Homo sapiens: one gene and its partners. The protein of the gene in region 3 interacts with the protein of the main gene of each other region in a biochemical or structural test. Each region holds a gene or a part of one and is shown on either strand. Other genes may lie near its edges.

Region 1 (4,528 bases), on a different chromosome or scaffold from region 3:
TGACTCATGCCTATAATCCTAGCACTTTGGGAGGCTGAGGCAGATCACGAGGTCATGAGTTCAAGGCCAGCCTGACCAACATGGTGAAACCCCATCTCTACTAAAAATACAAAAATTAGCGGGGTACAGTGGCGTACACCTGTAATCTCAGCTATTCAAGAGGCTGAGACAGGAGAATCACTTGAATCCGGGAGGCGGAGGTTGCAGTGAGCTGAGATCGCACCACTGCACTCCAGCCTGGGCAACAGAGCAAGACTCCGTCTCAAAAAAAAAATTTTTTTTTTGTAGAAATGAGGTCTCACTATGTTGCTCAGGCTGGTCTTGAACTCCTGGGCTCAAGTGATCCTCCTGCCGTGGCCTCCCGAAGTGCTGGGATTACAGATATGAGCCACCACACCTAGCTTGAGAAACTTGAAACATTCCAGACAAAAACAGATATGAAGATAAAGGGATCTAGCCTATTTATACTTATCAGAGGAGGAGATGTCTAGAGGGCAAGAGGAGGAACTGGGATGCCTCCTCCTCTGAGACACAACTGGAAATCAAGAGGCCAGATTCTCTCTGGGTGCTGTTTAGAATCAGCTGTACTATCTCAGTCTAAAAGATAAGCAATGATGCCGGGCGCGGTGGCTCACTCCTGTAATCCCAGTACTTTGAGAGGCCACGGCAGGCGGATCACTTGAGTCCAGGAGTTCAAGACCAGCCTGGCCAACATGGTGAAACCCTATCTCTACTAAAAATACAAAAAGTGGCCAGGCATGGAGGTGCGCACCTGTAATCCTGGTTATTTGGAAGACTGAGGCATGAGAATCGCTTGAACCCAGTAGGTGGAGGTTGCAGTGAGCTGAGATCCTGCCACTGCACTCCAGCCTGGGTGACCAGAGCAAGACTGTCTCAAAAAAAAAGACGAGCAATGACCTTCAATGGCCTATAACAAAAAGGAAGGGGGCGGGTGGCAGTAACATTCTGCTCAGGAGTTAGCACTTTCAGGGTTAACCTGGGGATAGCCTGGCTCTCCAGCAGTGGGAAGAGGGTGACTTCCTCCCCCACAGGTTTGTAAAGGCTTACTCTTCCCTTTGCAGAGACAGAAGGGAGAAAATGCATAGACAACACTTCAGTGACTCACTCATGTTTGATGAAAGCTGGGAGGAGGCCTGGAGAATCCAAGCTACAAGCACAAAACGTACAAATACTGGAATCTCCCATCAAGAGAAGGAAATTTAGCCACCTATCTGGTTTGTCATTTTGCTGAACTTCCACTGAAGGAGGAAGGGCCAGCTTTAAACTCCACCCACCCTTTCCACATCCTTCTCAATTTTTGCTTTGATGGGAAAGTGGGGAAACTGGCGGCCCCACCATGGCTAAAAGAGAATCAAATCCTTTCTATACTTCCTCTCAAAGCAGAGGCCTAGTAGCTCCAGTCCACAGCTTAACCAAGCAGAGGGAATAGGGGCTTGTCCTGGTTACTGTAGGAAAGCCTCATCAGGCAGTCTCAGGGAAGGAAGATGACCACCCTCCTCACCCTTTCCATCTGCTGAGGTTACTTCATTCCAATCCATTAATGGGCTTCAAAGTGCTGCTGGGGGGAGTCCATTTAGCAGAGAAGCTATCACGGGGCCAAAGGTGGCGCCCACCCCCTACCCCATTTGTCGATAATGGGCCACAAAGTCTGAGGCTTGGCTGCACTCTAGACATAAAATATTCATTCAAGTCGACATAATACATAAGTAGGAACCTCATGGAAGCTCCTGGGAGAAGAGAAATGCCAGCCAGGTGGCTAAGTGCTCAATGGGAAAGAGTTCATGAAGGCCTGGGTTAGTCCTGATCAAATGCCCACTGAGAATTGGGTTGTTCTGTCCAAAGGGGAAACAATCTAGTCTGAGAAGTTCTGACTCCCAAAAGCTCGAACCCTGCAAACCTCTTAGGCAAGCAAAGTCTCAATCTTTTCCTACCTCATAGGCACCAACTCTGCTTAGGACATTTATGCTGAGAAAAATCTCCAGCCCAAACTTTGGTTGGTCTGAAAGATTAAGTTATCCTTGTGCAAACTTTATTTTAATCTGCAGCAGGCCGAGTTTCAACAACTGTCTTATATCCATCTGTTTAGCTACTTTCCGAAGTCCATAAATTGGAGAAAAGTAATTTTTTTTTTCTGAGATAGTGTCTTGCTCTGTCACCCAGGCTGAAGTGCAGTGGCACAAACACAGCTCAATGCAGTCTCGACCTCCCCAGCTCAAGCCATCCTCCTGCCTCAGCCTTCTGTGTAGCTGCAACCACAGGCATGTGCCACCATGCCCAGCTAAATTTAAAAAAATTTTTTTGTAGAGATGGAGTCTCACTTTATTGATCAGGCTGGTCTTGAACTCCTGGCCTCAAGCAATCCTCCTGCCTTGGCTTCCCAAAGTGCTAGGACTACAGGCATGAGCCATGGTGCCTGACCAGAGAGAAATTATTCTAATTTACTAGGTACAGTTACTTTTCAGATTCAAAGGTTACGAACTCCAAGGACTCCCAAAGCCCTTGCTCTAACAACACTTCCTTCCTGATCTCTAGGGCCAAGCCGAAAGTGACACTATTTGGTCTGACATTCACCCACATTCCTGACCAGAAGGCAGCACCACCAAGGACCCCCTGGCCAGAATCAAAGGACAGAGTGAGAATTAGCACCAGGGCACACTGCTGCACAGCTCAGAGTGTGGACTGAGATGCTAGCTAGCCGATCCAATCTACCTAAGTTACACCAAAAGCAAAAAAAAAATATTTATCCAGCAGATCACCTGAGGTCAGGAGATCGAGACCAGCTTGGCCAATATGGCAAAACCCCGTCTCTACTAAAAATACAAAAATTAGCCAGCATGGTGGTGGGCGCCTGTAGTCCCAGCTACTCCCAGGAGGCTGAGGCAGGAGAATCGCTTGACCCGGGAGGCGGAGGTTGCAGTGAGCCGAGATCGCATCGCTACACTCCAGCCTGGGCGACAGAGCAAGACTCTGTGTCAAAAAAAAAAAGAGTTTTATATATATATATATTTTTATCCAGAATCAACAATGGGGGTCCAGTGAGAGTGTTTGGAGTAGTTCAGCTGTTCCTTATAGGATCTTGTAACTTTGTTTTCTTCACCAGTACTTCTAAACTCCCCTTCCTAGAACTGAGAGAATAAACAATGCCGCTCACTGCCTAGAAGCCTGACAGCAGCCCCCTCCCTTCCCACTGCAGCAGAAGTGGGGCAAGTTTTCTCTCAATCCCTCTCTCATAGTTTCTGAGGCCCAGAGGTGGGGCAGGTCCCAGATGGAGTAGCCTCTCCCCCAGGTGTTATGGAAAACTCTAGCAGGTGAACTCTGGAAGCTGGACCTTTCTCCAGGCTTGCCTGTGACTGCTGCTGCTGGCTGGAAGACAAACAGTCATCTTGCTGATTGCTTTCACAACTGCCAAGCTTCAGGCCAGCAGAGTCATTTGGAAAAGAAGTGAACAAAAAGCTCAGCTCACAAACTAAGAATCCCCCAAGCTACGAGCCCCAGATTAGAACCCTCCTTCTGCAAAAGCAGGAAGTCTATGGCTGTGAAAAAGCACATCTGGAATCAGGTGTCACAAAAACCATCTTAAAGACAGGGCTTAACTTTTTTTTTTTTTTAATCTCCTACTTTCACTGTTATAAGCGAAGTGGACAGCACACAGGCAATCTCCCTGTAACGCAAGGTTTATTTTTATGCTTCAACATTTTCAGTGTCTGTGTGTTTCAGAGTGATTAAAGGGCTCCTGGAAACAGGTTCTCATCAGCCACATTTTTAAAGAAGAGGGAGAGGAAGAGCAAGAAAAGAGACTGGAGACAACCAGTGGTGTTTGTTTACCTATTTTCTGGTAAAACCAGTTTTAAATTTAAATAAGGTGACAGAGGACCTTTAGGGGAGGAAATCAGCCCAACTAAATCCCCTTTTTAAAAAAAATAACATTAAGACTATAGTAATGACCAAGCTTCCATGACTACTTTATCTAAAATCACAACAGGACCAAGAAGAGGTTTCTTTCACTTGGTGGCATGATCTATTCTCGGAGGCCAGTGTTTGATATACCTGGCCTTGTGACCTGAGGAGCTGCTGCTTGTCTTTTTTCCCGTTTTAAAGAATACAGGAATCAGGCCCGGCGCAGTGGCTCACACCTGTAATCCCAGCACTTTGGGAGGCCGGATCACGAGGACAGGAGACTGAGACCATCCTGGACAACATGGTGAAACGCTGTCTCTACTAAAATCCAAAAAATTAGCCGGGCGTGGCGGTGTGTGCCTGTAGTCCCAGCTACTCAGGAGGCTGAGGCAGGGGAATCGCTTGAACCCAGGAGGCGGAGATTGCAGTGAGCCAAGATTGTGCCACTGCACTCCAGCCTGGCGACAGAACGAGACTCTATCTCAAAAAAAAAAAAAAAAAAGAATACAGGAATCTGTCTGGAATAGGTGCATCCAAGGTTTTCCAAAGTCCCTGCTTTTACTGGAATGAGACTTAATATTAAATCGATACAGTGACTGGCTACCCTGAG
Region 2 (4,284 bases), on a different chromosome or scaffold from region 3:
GACTTCAGAGTACAGGCTCTTAGGATGTGAGCAGGAGGATGGCAGGCGGGCACAGAATTCAGAAAGAATGAGGGAGAGGCTCTGGCCCTCTGTGACCCGAATCACCGAGCCCCTCTCTCCCCTCAGCTCACAAGTACGTGCCTCGAGCCATTCTGGTGGACCTGGAACCCGGAACCATGGACAGTGTCCGCTCAGGGGCCTTTGGACATCTCTTCAGGCCTGACAATTTCATCTTTGGTAAGTTCCCCCTGCTCCAAGCTCTGATGGCAGACCCCATCACAGGCAAGCCCAGGTCGGTGGACGGGGACGGCTGTGAGAAACAAGGAATGGTCAGCTCCTCACATGATCCTGAATGGTGGGAACTCATCTCTCCATTTTACAGCTGGGCATTGGAGGCCCAGAGAAAGGGTTCTGTGGGGAGAACAGAAACCACTCATGCATTTCAAGTGGAATGAAGTGTAAAGCAGACAGAAGCTTACAGAATTGCTAGAGAGCTGGTGAGACAGAACGGGGCCTCCAGAGGACTCCGGGGTCCAGGAGCACGAGGCCTTGCTGCGGTCAAGAGATCAGGACGTTCCCATGCCTGTGTCCTGGGGTTGGGCCGTGGATGCCACGTTCCCATGTCTGTGTCCTGGGGCGGGGCCGTGGATGCCACGTTCCCACGTCTGTGTCCTGGGGCGGGGCCGTGGATGCCACGTTCCCACGTCTGTGTCCTGGGGCGGGGCCGTGGATGCCACGTTCCCACGCCTGTGTCCTGGGGCGGGGCCGTGGATGCCACGTTCCCACGCCTGTGTCCTGGGGCGGGGCCGTGGATGCCACGTTCCCATGCCTGTGTCCTGGGGCGGGGCCGTGGATGCCACGTTCCCATGCCTGTGTCCTGGGGCGGGGCCGTGGATGCCACGTTCCCATGTCTGTGTCCTGGGGCGGGGCCGTGGACGCGCCACAGAAACAGGAGGGCCTCGCTTCACTTCTGCCTTCCCGACCGCAGCACATCCAGCTGGTAGATGCCAACTCGCATCCAGCCCCCAGCTGCCAGGGATTCTGGGGTGGCTGTTTGGGCTCCTGGCACTGCCAGTCGGAAGGAAGGTATGCTGGAGCAGGAGGGCTGATCCATTCACCCAGGATCCCCTCAGGAGGCAGAGCCTCGCTCTGCTGTGACCCCAAGTTCTCAAGACTCTGTCCAGAGCCCTCGTCCTGAGCACTCAGCAGCATCGGCTCAGGGAAGCCACGGCGGGTATGAGAAGGGGTGCTCAGTGGGGCCTACTTTACAGAAGACAGAACAGGCATGGGGCTGCCACGGCTGCCCTTGGGATGTTCAGGCAGGGGCTGGAGGTCTGGACTGCAGAGTCCCTGGCCCCTGTCTCTTACCCCTCTTCTCCCTGTACAGGTCAGAGTGGGGCCGGCAACAACTGGGCCAAGGGTCACTACACGGAGGGGGCGGAGCTGGTGGATTCGGTCCTGGATGTGGTGCGGAAGGAGTGTGAAAACTGCGACTGCCTGCAGGGCTTCCAGCTGACCCACTCGCTGGGGGGCGGCACGGGCTCCGGCATGGGCACGTTGCTCATCAGCAAGGTGCGTGAGGAGTATCCCGACCGCATCATGAACACCTTCAGCGTCGTGCCCTCACCCAAGGTGTCAGACACGGTGGTGGAGCCCTACAACGCCACGCTGTCCATCCACCAGCTGGTGGAGAACACGGATGAGACCTACTGCATCGACAACGAGGCGCTCTACGACATCTGCTTCCGCACCCTCAAGCTGGCCACGCCCACCTACGGGGACCTCAACCACCTGGTATCGGCCACCATGAGCGGAGTCACCACCTCCTTGCGCTTCCCGGGCCAGCTCAACGCTGACCTGCGCAAGCTGGCCGTCAACATGGTGCCCTTCCCGCGCCTGCACTTCTTCATGCCCGGCTTCGCCCCCCTCACAGCCCGGGGCAGCCAGCAGTACCGGGCCCTGACCGTGCCCGAGCTCACCCAGCAGATGTTCGATGCCAAGAACATGATGGCCGCCTGCGACCCGCGCCACGGCCGCTACCTGACGGTGGCCACCGTGTTCCGGGGCCGCATGTCCATGAAGGAGGTGGACGAGCAGATGCTGGCCATCCAGAGCAAGAACAGCAGCTACTTCGTGGAGTGGATCCCCAACAACGTGAAGGTGGCCGTGTGTGACATCCCGCCCCGCGGCCTCAAGATGTCCTCCACCTTCATCGGGAACAGCACGGCCATCCAGGAGCTGTTCAAGCGCATCTCCGAGCAGTTCACGGCCATGTTCCGGCGCAAGGCCTTCCTGCACTGGTACACGGGCGAGGGCATGGACGAGATGGAGTTCACCGAGGCCGAGAGCAACATGAACGACCTGGTGTCCGAGTACCAGCAGTACCAGGACGCCACGGCCGAGGAAGAGGGCGAGATGTACGAAGACGACGAGGAGGAGTCGGAGGCCCAGGGCCCCAAGTGAAGCTGCTCGCAGCTGGAGTGAGAGGCAGGTGGCGGCCGGGGCCGAAGCCAGCAGTGTCTAAACCCCCGGAGCCATCTTGCTGCCGACACCCTGCTTTCCCCTCGCCCTAGGGCTCCCTTGCCGCCCTCCTGCAGTATTTATGGCCTCGTCCTCCCCACCTAGGCCACGTGTGAGCTGCTCCTGTCTCTGTCTTATTGCAGCTCCAGGCCTGACGTTTTACGGTTTTGTTTTTTACTGGTTTGTGTTTATATTTTCGGGGATACTTAATAAATCTATTGCTGTCAGATACCCTTGCTTGGTGCCAGAGATGTCCTTTTATTCTGGAAAGTTGTGTCCAGTAGGTGGAGGGGCTGACAGGGAGGCCCGGGTGGACAGGCAAGAAGAGCTCATCCTCTCCCAGGCTGGCGGCTGAGAGAGGCCTGCGCTGGGGGCCGGAATGTGTCTCAAGGCACAGCCCGTGGGGAGACCCCGGAAACGGGAAGCCCGGGAGAAGGAACGGGAAGTACCTCATTCCAGACCTCAAGATGCAGCCCTCCCGACTTGGAAATAACCCCACACTCGTTCCCTGGCCTCCCACAGAGCGGCTTGCACCCCAGACTTTTCTCCCACCTGTCTGTAGGCTGAAAGTTGGGGCAGGTGGTCCCTCCTGCGGTGGAAACTGCCATCAGACCTGAAGCCTCGGGTCACAACCAGGGAGGTAGGGAAGGGGGCCCCGAGTGCTCCCTGAAAAAGACGGTGTGTTTAGTGTCTCGGGGCTGGGCCCTGGGAGGGGCTGCTGAGGTCAGGGAGATGCGGCCACAGGACGCAGGCCTGGGCTGCCGGGAGGGACGTATCAGTCCTCCCGCCCCCGGCAGCCCCTTCCTGGGGTGCATGATACTTGGTGTCCAGCCACACAGGGCATGGCCTGAGGAGCCGCTCACCTGGTTCCCCACATCCTCCTACAGGGACAGAGCCTGGAGCCCAGAGAGGCCGACTGCCCAGCCCTCCACAGTCGCCTCCCTGCCACCCCGCCCCTTGGAGCTGAGGGGCATCAGCAGCCTCAGTCTCCCAGGTTCTGCCCAGTGGTACCCTGAGAGCGGCCCCTTCTTCTTGAATCACCCTTCAACCTGGCAATGGGCGCAGAAGAAGACAGGCCGTGTGCACTGCGGGCCCCAGCTTCAGATGCGAGGGCTGCAGGCCCCAGAGGCCGCCATCTCGAGTTCTGGCCCTGACACCCCCAACATGGATGGGGCCGGGGATGTGTCTCCTCCGCCGGCTGCTGCTGTGTAACAAATCACCCCAAATCTACCTGAAACAGCACGGGATCCTTTCTCTAGACACAGCGTGTTAGCTGGATCCTTCTGCTCCTCACAATGTTGGGAGGGGCCAGCTGCAAGCTCTGACATCTCACTCTTGGGGTTGTCCTCCGCACGGCTGCCTGGCCGACCCCTCGCATGGTGGGGCGGAGGCTGGAACCACGTCTTACATGGCACCGGTTCTTTTTTTCTTTGTGACAGAGTCTCGCTCTGTCGCCTAGGCTGGAGTGCAGTGGCGCAATCTCAGCTCACTGCAAGCTCCGCCTCCCGGGTTCACGCCATTCTCCTGCCTCAGCCTCCTGAGTAGCAGGGACTACGGGCGCCCGCCACCATGCCCGGCTAATTTTTTGTATTTTTAGTAGAGATGGGGTTTCACCATGTTAGCCAGGATGGTCTCCATCTCCTGACCTCAGGATCCGCCCACCTTGGCCTCCCAAAGTGCTGGGATTACAGGCGTGAGCCACCGTCACTGATTCTTAAGTGTGCCAGACCCATGTCAATCACAGGCCTGGCATCACTGTCCCAT
Region 3 (5,556 bases):
GGGTGTGTAGTCCCAGCTCTTGTTGAACTCCTCGATGTACTTGAGGTCGTCTGGAGACAGGGGTGGGGTGACATCCTCCTTGCTGCTGGTGGACGGCAGGCCCTTCTCAGGCAGGAAGGGGGAGATGTCCATTAGACGCTGGAACTCAGACATGGAGGACACGGACACCGCCCTGGGAAAAGCAGAAAAGAGGGTGTCAGTACCTGCCAGGGAGCCTCTGACACACCACAACACCCATGTCCTGCCCTGCATGAGAAGTGTCAGTGAAGGCACCCGCTGCCACCCACACCAGGAGAACACTGTCAGCTGCTCATGTGCTGCACTCACAGACTTACCCTGCGGGCATTTATTGGACTCTGCGTGGCTCTGGAATTGTTCCTGAAGCCTTGCATTGGTCAGAATTTAATACAACCAACTCTGGCTCACACCCGTAATCCCAACACTTTGGGAGGCCAAGACAGGAGAATCACTTGAGGCCTCAGTGCCTCAGTGAGAATTCTCAGGAGACTCACTCGGACCACAGCTGAAGGGTGAAGACGGTGAGCCACGGCGATGGCCAGGTTTTGGCAAGCTGCCACCTGATGGACACAGATTTGGTGTGGATTCTTCCATGTGTTAGCACTTTCAATTTGCCATGAGTTCGCTGAATGCCTCTCACATGCCTGGCAGGTGCTGCAGGGGTGCCAGCAATGCTTCCAGGCTAAGACAGAAAGTGGCCGGAGTGCTCGGGCACGACTACCACCAGGGCAAAGAAGTGGTGGTCAGGAACGGGGCTGGGGCTGCCTGTGCCTGCTGGCTCAGGCAACAGAACCTCTTTGGCCTGGAATCCCTCCAGCTGGGGTGGGATGGGGCGATGAGGTGTCTGTAGACTCACTGTCCAGATTCTTACAGGACATACTGATACTCCTTTCACCCCACAAAGCACAGGCTTAAACCTAGGGATCTAGACTAGTGCAGGCCCTGTGGAAGGGGTCCCAGATTGAGTGTATGGACCACTCCTCCATAGGACCTATTAATGATGATGAGGCCAGAATTGGGGTCTGCTCTGAGCAAGTCCCTGTACCGTGTGCGCTGGTACACAGAACCAGCAAAGCTCTGGGCAGCTTTGCTGACAGCTGGCTTCACCTTGGGGGCAAGGCACCCGTCCATGTGGTCAGCACCACGGGGTAAAACAGCAGGCTAAAAGTGACATCGTTAGGCATTCCATCTTGTTATCTTTTTGTTGTTAGAAATAATCTACAAACTGTCCAGTGGTGCTTTGAATAACCACAAGCTGGCTATATCCAGTGCCGGAAAGGAAGGGCAATGGTAGGGATGGGTTGATTTGTCCCAAGGTCATGAGCTTTCCAGCAAGTATGAATTTCCCTCTTCTCAATTCAAGGAGTTGCTGAATTAATGATGAGTTTCAGAACACTGTTCGCTGGGGACTGTAAGTGCCGGACACATGCCAACACCCTGGTCCTTTCCACATTTCTGTGGACATAGCTCATCTAACTCCCACTTTTGCCCACAGAGGAACTGTCTCAGAGTTAAATCAGTGGCACCTACCTGGGTGGGAACTCAGTGCCTCTGGGGCATGGATGGATATGGTGGAACAGAGATGATAAAGACAGAGAAAGCAGAGGCATTAACCTCAGCAGTGGCCAAAGCAAACAAAACCATGATGAGAAAACCCGGGATACATCTGGAGCATGTGTAGGCGCTTGCAGGTGGAACGAAGAGAGTATGGTGGAAACATACCGGGCAGTCAGAATCAGAGGACATGGGGACAGTGGGGAGGGCGCATCCAGTTTCCACTTTGGATATTTTGAGACTATCTATCTATCTATCTATCTTTTTTTTTTTTTGAGACGGAGTCTTACTCTGTCGCCCAGGATGTAGTGCAGTGGCGCAATCTCGGTTCACTGCAACCTCCGCCTCCCGGGTTCGGTCAATTTTCCTGCCTCAGCCAATATTTACATTTTATAACAAGCATGTGTTACTTTTGAAAGCATAAAAGTTGATGGCTTGAGTGGTGAAGTACAGTTGCTCCAAAGCCTAACCGGAAACACTGATGTGGCTGCTGCTGTGAACGGGGAAGGTGGGAGGGTGTAATGACTAAACTCTGTTTACTGTTTGTTTTGTGCCATGTGCTGCTTTCATTATGTGTATTAACATACATAAGCTGCAAAAAAAAAAGATAATCAAAATACGTCCTGTATACAGATGAGGAAACTGAGGCACAAAGCAGTTGAGTAACCTACCCAAGGAGGCAGAAGCGATTCAAACCCAGGCAGTTTGGGCTGGGCACAGTGGCTCACGCCTGTAATCCCAGCACTTCGGGAGGCTGAGGCGGGTGGATCACCTGAGGTCAGGAATTCGAGACCAGCCTGGCCAACATGGCGAAACTCTGTTTCTATTAAAAGACAAAAATTAGCCGGGTATGGTGGGGTTTGCCTGTAATCCCAGCTACTTGGGAGGCTGATGCAGAATTGCTTGAACCCAGGGGGCAGAGGTTGCAGTGAGCCAAGATTGTGCCACTGTACTCCAGCCTGGGAGACAGAGCGAGACTCCATTTCAAAAATCAACCAACCAACCAACCAACCAACCAACCCAGGCAGTTTGGCTCTAGAGCCTGAGCTCTCAAGTACTGTCCTGTACCACCCAAGAAAGACCAGAGAAGACAGCGTGAAGGACAGAAGTGTGCCACAGGCATGGCTAGGTGCTGCAGAGATCTGGCAGGGAGCAAATGGGAAGAGGACAGTCATTCACAGACTCGAAGTTCAGAGGAAAATCAAGGATGAGGCGATCTGGAAATGCTGAATTGCCTGAGAAGAAATTTCATGTAGTAGAAACGGTATGTATTCATTTGGAGAATGATGAAAAAGTAAAACTGGAGGAAATTAAACTGGGGAGGAAAAAACTGGTGTGTAACTAACAACCACATCAACCACTATATATCTTCTTCAAGGACTACTGCCAGAAAATATTTTAATAAATTCTCTTAGTGGAGCTTTTAAATACAGTGTATAAAGCATCTCACAGCATACAAAAGAGAGTTTTCCCAGACTTTAAATGAGAAAAGAGAGGTTTCCATGGACCTTTCAAAAACCACTCAACACAAGCATTCCTTTGTATACATAACACAACAACAACTGGAAAGTCCTTACCATAAAACTCATACACATGTGACACAGCACGTCTAACTTCTTTGTTAATAATCAAAAATACCATGTTTATGAAATGAATAATAAAGCAGCCACTTCTTCAGAAGTGGCATAATTTTAAGTCATTTTGAAGAGAGTGGTAAAATAGACTGCATTGACAAAACAACATTTTAAGACCAAGACATTTTTATTCTAGTAATCTATTATTTTCATCAATCTTACTTACCTTTGAAGATTTCCTTTGTGATTTTCTTCTTCCTATAAAGAAGAAATAACTTCATCTGAATCGGTTAATTTTGGTTGTCCAGAAGCCCTGAATGTACTTAAGTGATTTGTTTGCTCTGCACCCCCAGGAAACCACCATTTAAAATGTGCACTGAGGCCAAGCTCTGGTTAGGAGTGCTACTGCCCTGAGGCCTTTAAAGTACAATCATCAAAGCGAGTCCACAGCATGATGAGGGGCTGGAGCTTCTGTAGTCCAGGGAGAAGCCCACATGAGTGAGAACAACTGGCTATAAACTTTGTCATGGAGGAGGTGGCTCTTCTGTGCTTCCTCAAAGGACCTCACTGACTACATGAATTTCAAAGCGGGATTTGTAACAACCTAAGTGTGAGAGTGAGACTGAGAGAGAGAGAGAGAGTGTGCATGTGTTATGTTAGAGAGAAAGATGGAAGGTGATAGAGTAACGTTAGTGGTCCCGATCTTGCTGTAGAAGTTGGCGTGACATCCTTAGACTCGGGCACTTGGTTGGTTTTAAACATTCCCATTTAGAATCAGAGGCAAAGTACAGTGCCTTCCCCTTTAAGAAGAATGATAGCTGTGTTTGTAGAGAACGGCATAAACACGAGGTTGTCTGCTGAGAAAACACTCTTGTGCTGATGTGGTTTTGAAGCAGCAAGACTCTGACTAACAGTAAGGGAAGCATATTTTTCAAGACAGTAAATAGCAAGGGGTACCCTTCCCCTTAATGAGCATGCCCCTTGTCTCTGCCATGCAGGGTCCAGTGGGCTGGAACCCACGCACAGGCTCCTGACCCCACCCCACGTTACCTCTACTATGTAATCGGACTGTATAAGATTGCCAATAGATCAGACAGGGTGGGACTGTGGCAATGTCCTATCAACCTGGTACACATTGCTGAGGATAAGGCATTTGACCTTACTGATGTGGGTGAAATATAATTTCTGCATACTTCAATAACACTATTTGATATGAACTCTTCTAAGTCTTGAGTGTTTAGGAGACCAAATGATAGGTGCAGCAACTGTTGAACTGCTTCACAGGTAATGAGTCCTAGAATCAACTTTTTTTTTTTGGATGGAGTCTTGCTCTGTCGCCCAGGCTGGAGTGCAGTGGCGCGATCTTGGCTCACTACAAGCTCCGCCTCCTGGGTTCACGCCATTCTCCTGCCTCAGTCTCCCAAGTAGCTGGGACTACAGGCACCCGCCACCACGCCTGGCTAATTTTTTTGTATTTTTAGTAGAGACAGGGTTTCACCGTGTTAGCCAGGATGGTCTCGATCTCCTGACCTCGTGATCCGCCCACCTCGGCCTCCCAAAGTGCTGGGATTACAGGCATGAGCCACCACATCCGGCCCTAGAACAACTTTTAAAACAAGGTTTTAAAAATATTAAAACCAGAAAAACATAACTAACGCTGTGCCATGGAAATGTCTACAGCTTAGCTCACCCATTTGGTGGTCTAATTTATGTAAGGTTTCTAAGTGTTGGATTTTTTTCCCTTTGCCCAGAATATTTTTGGTTATTAGTTTTCTAGACTCAGAAGACTGTACTATTATTTCAAGAAAAGTTGAGGCTGGGTGTGGTAGCTCATACCTGTAATCCCGGCACTTTGGGAAGCCAAGGCAGACAGATCACTTGAGCCCAGGAGTTCGAGACCAGCTTGGGCAACATAGGGAGACCCTGTCTCTACTTAAAAAATAAAACAAAATAAATTAGCCAGGCATGGTAGCATGTGCCTGTGGTCCCAGCTACTCAGGAGGCTGAGGGGGAAGGATCAATTGAGCCTAGGAGGTCACGGCTGTGGTGAGTCGTTATCAGACACTCCACTCCACCCTGGGCAAGAGAGTGAGACCTCCATCTCCAAAAAAATCAAAAGAAAAAAGAAAAAGTTGAGCATATACACTTCCCAGAATTATTTACTTCCTCTTGTGTGTTTTATGGGACACACTTATTTGTGAGACCTTCCTTTTGTATAGGACTCTAGTCCAGTATTTCTAAACCTGAAACAAGGGGGCAAAGTTAAACTGACAGCAGAGCATGCTAATTTAGGGTGAAGCAAAACCCTTGGTGTTGTGAAGATTTCATTTTTACTCAATTCGGAGGTTGCTGTATGCAAAAGTGCTAGAGCCTGCCAGGAGAGGAATCTGGCAGATGCCTCTTAGGTTTC

The links. The genes of interacting proteins can lie anywhere in the genome.
Region 1: the proteins of MTCL1 (region 3) and MARK2 form a complex in vitro, tested with the Homo sapiens proteins (one study listed by BioGRID).
Region 2: the proteins of MTCL1 (region 3) and TUBB3 form a complex in vitro, tested with the Homo sapiens proteins (one study listed by BioGRID).

What each region holds. Positions count from the first base shown.
Region 1 is NC_000011.10:63,842,110-63,846,637, reverse strand, and holds part of MARK2 (serine/threonine-protein kinase MARK2), read right to left. Parts: intron 1-4,528. UniProt on the Homo sapiens protein: Serine/threonine-protein kinase. Involved in cell polarity and microtubule dynamics regulation. Phosphorylates CRTC2/TORC2, DCX, HDAC7, KIF13B, MAP2, MAP4 and RAB11FIP2. Phosphorylates the microtubule-associated protein MAPT/TAU.
Region 2 is NC_000016.10:89,933,342-89,937,625, forward strand, and holds the end of TUBB3 (tubulin beta-3 chain), read left to right. Parts: intron 1-126; coding exon 127-237; intron 238-1,387; coding exon 1,388-2,463; 3' UTR 2,464-2,756; downstream 2,757-4,284. UniProt on the Homo sapiens protein: Tubulin is the major constituent of microtubules, protein filaments consisting of alpha- and beta-tubulin heterodimers. Microtubules grow by the addition of GTP-tubulin dimers to the microtubule end, where a stabilizing cap forms.
Region 3 is NC_000018.10:8,819,315-8,824,870, reverse strand, and holds part of MTCL1 (microtubule cross-linking factor 1), read right to left. Parts: intron 3,405-5,556; coding exon 3,373-3,404; intron 701-3,372; coding exon of another isoform or gene 655-700; exon of another isoform or gene 513-654; intron 173-512; coding exon 1-172. UniProt on the Homo sapiens protein: Microtubule-associated factor involved in the late phase of epithelial polarization and microtubule dynamics regulation.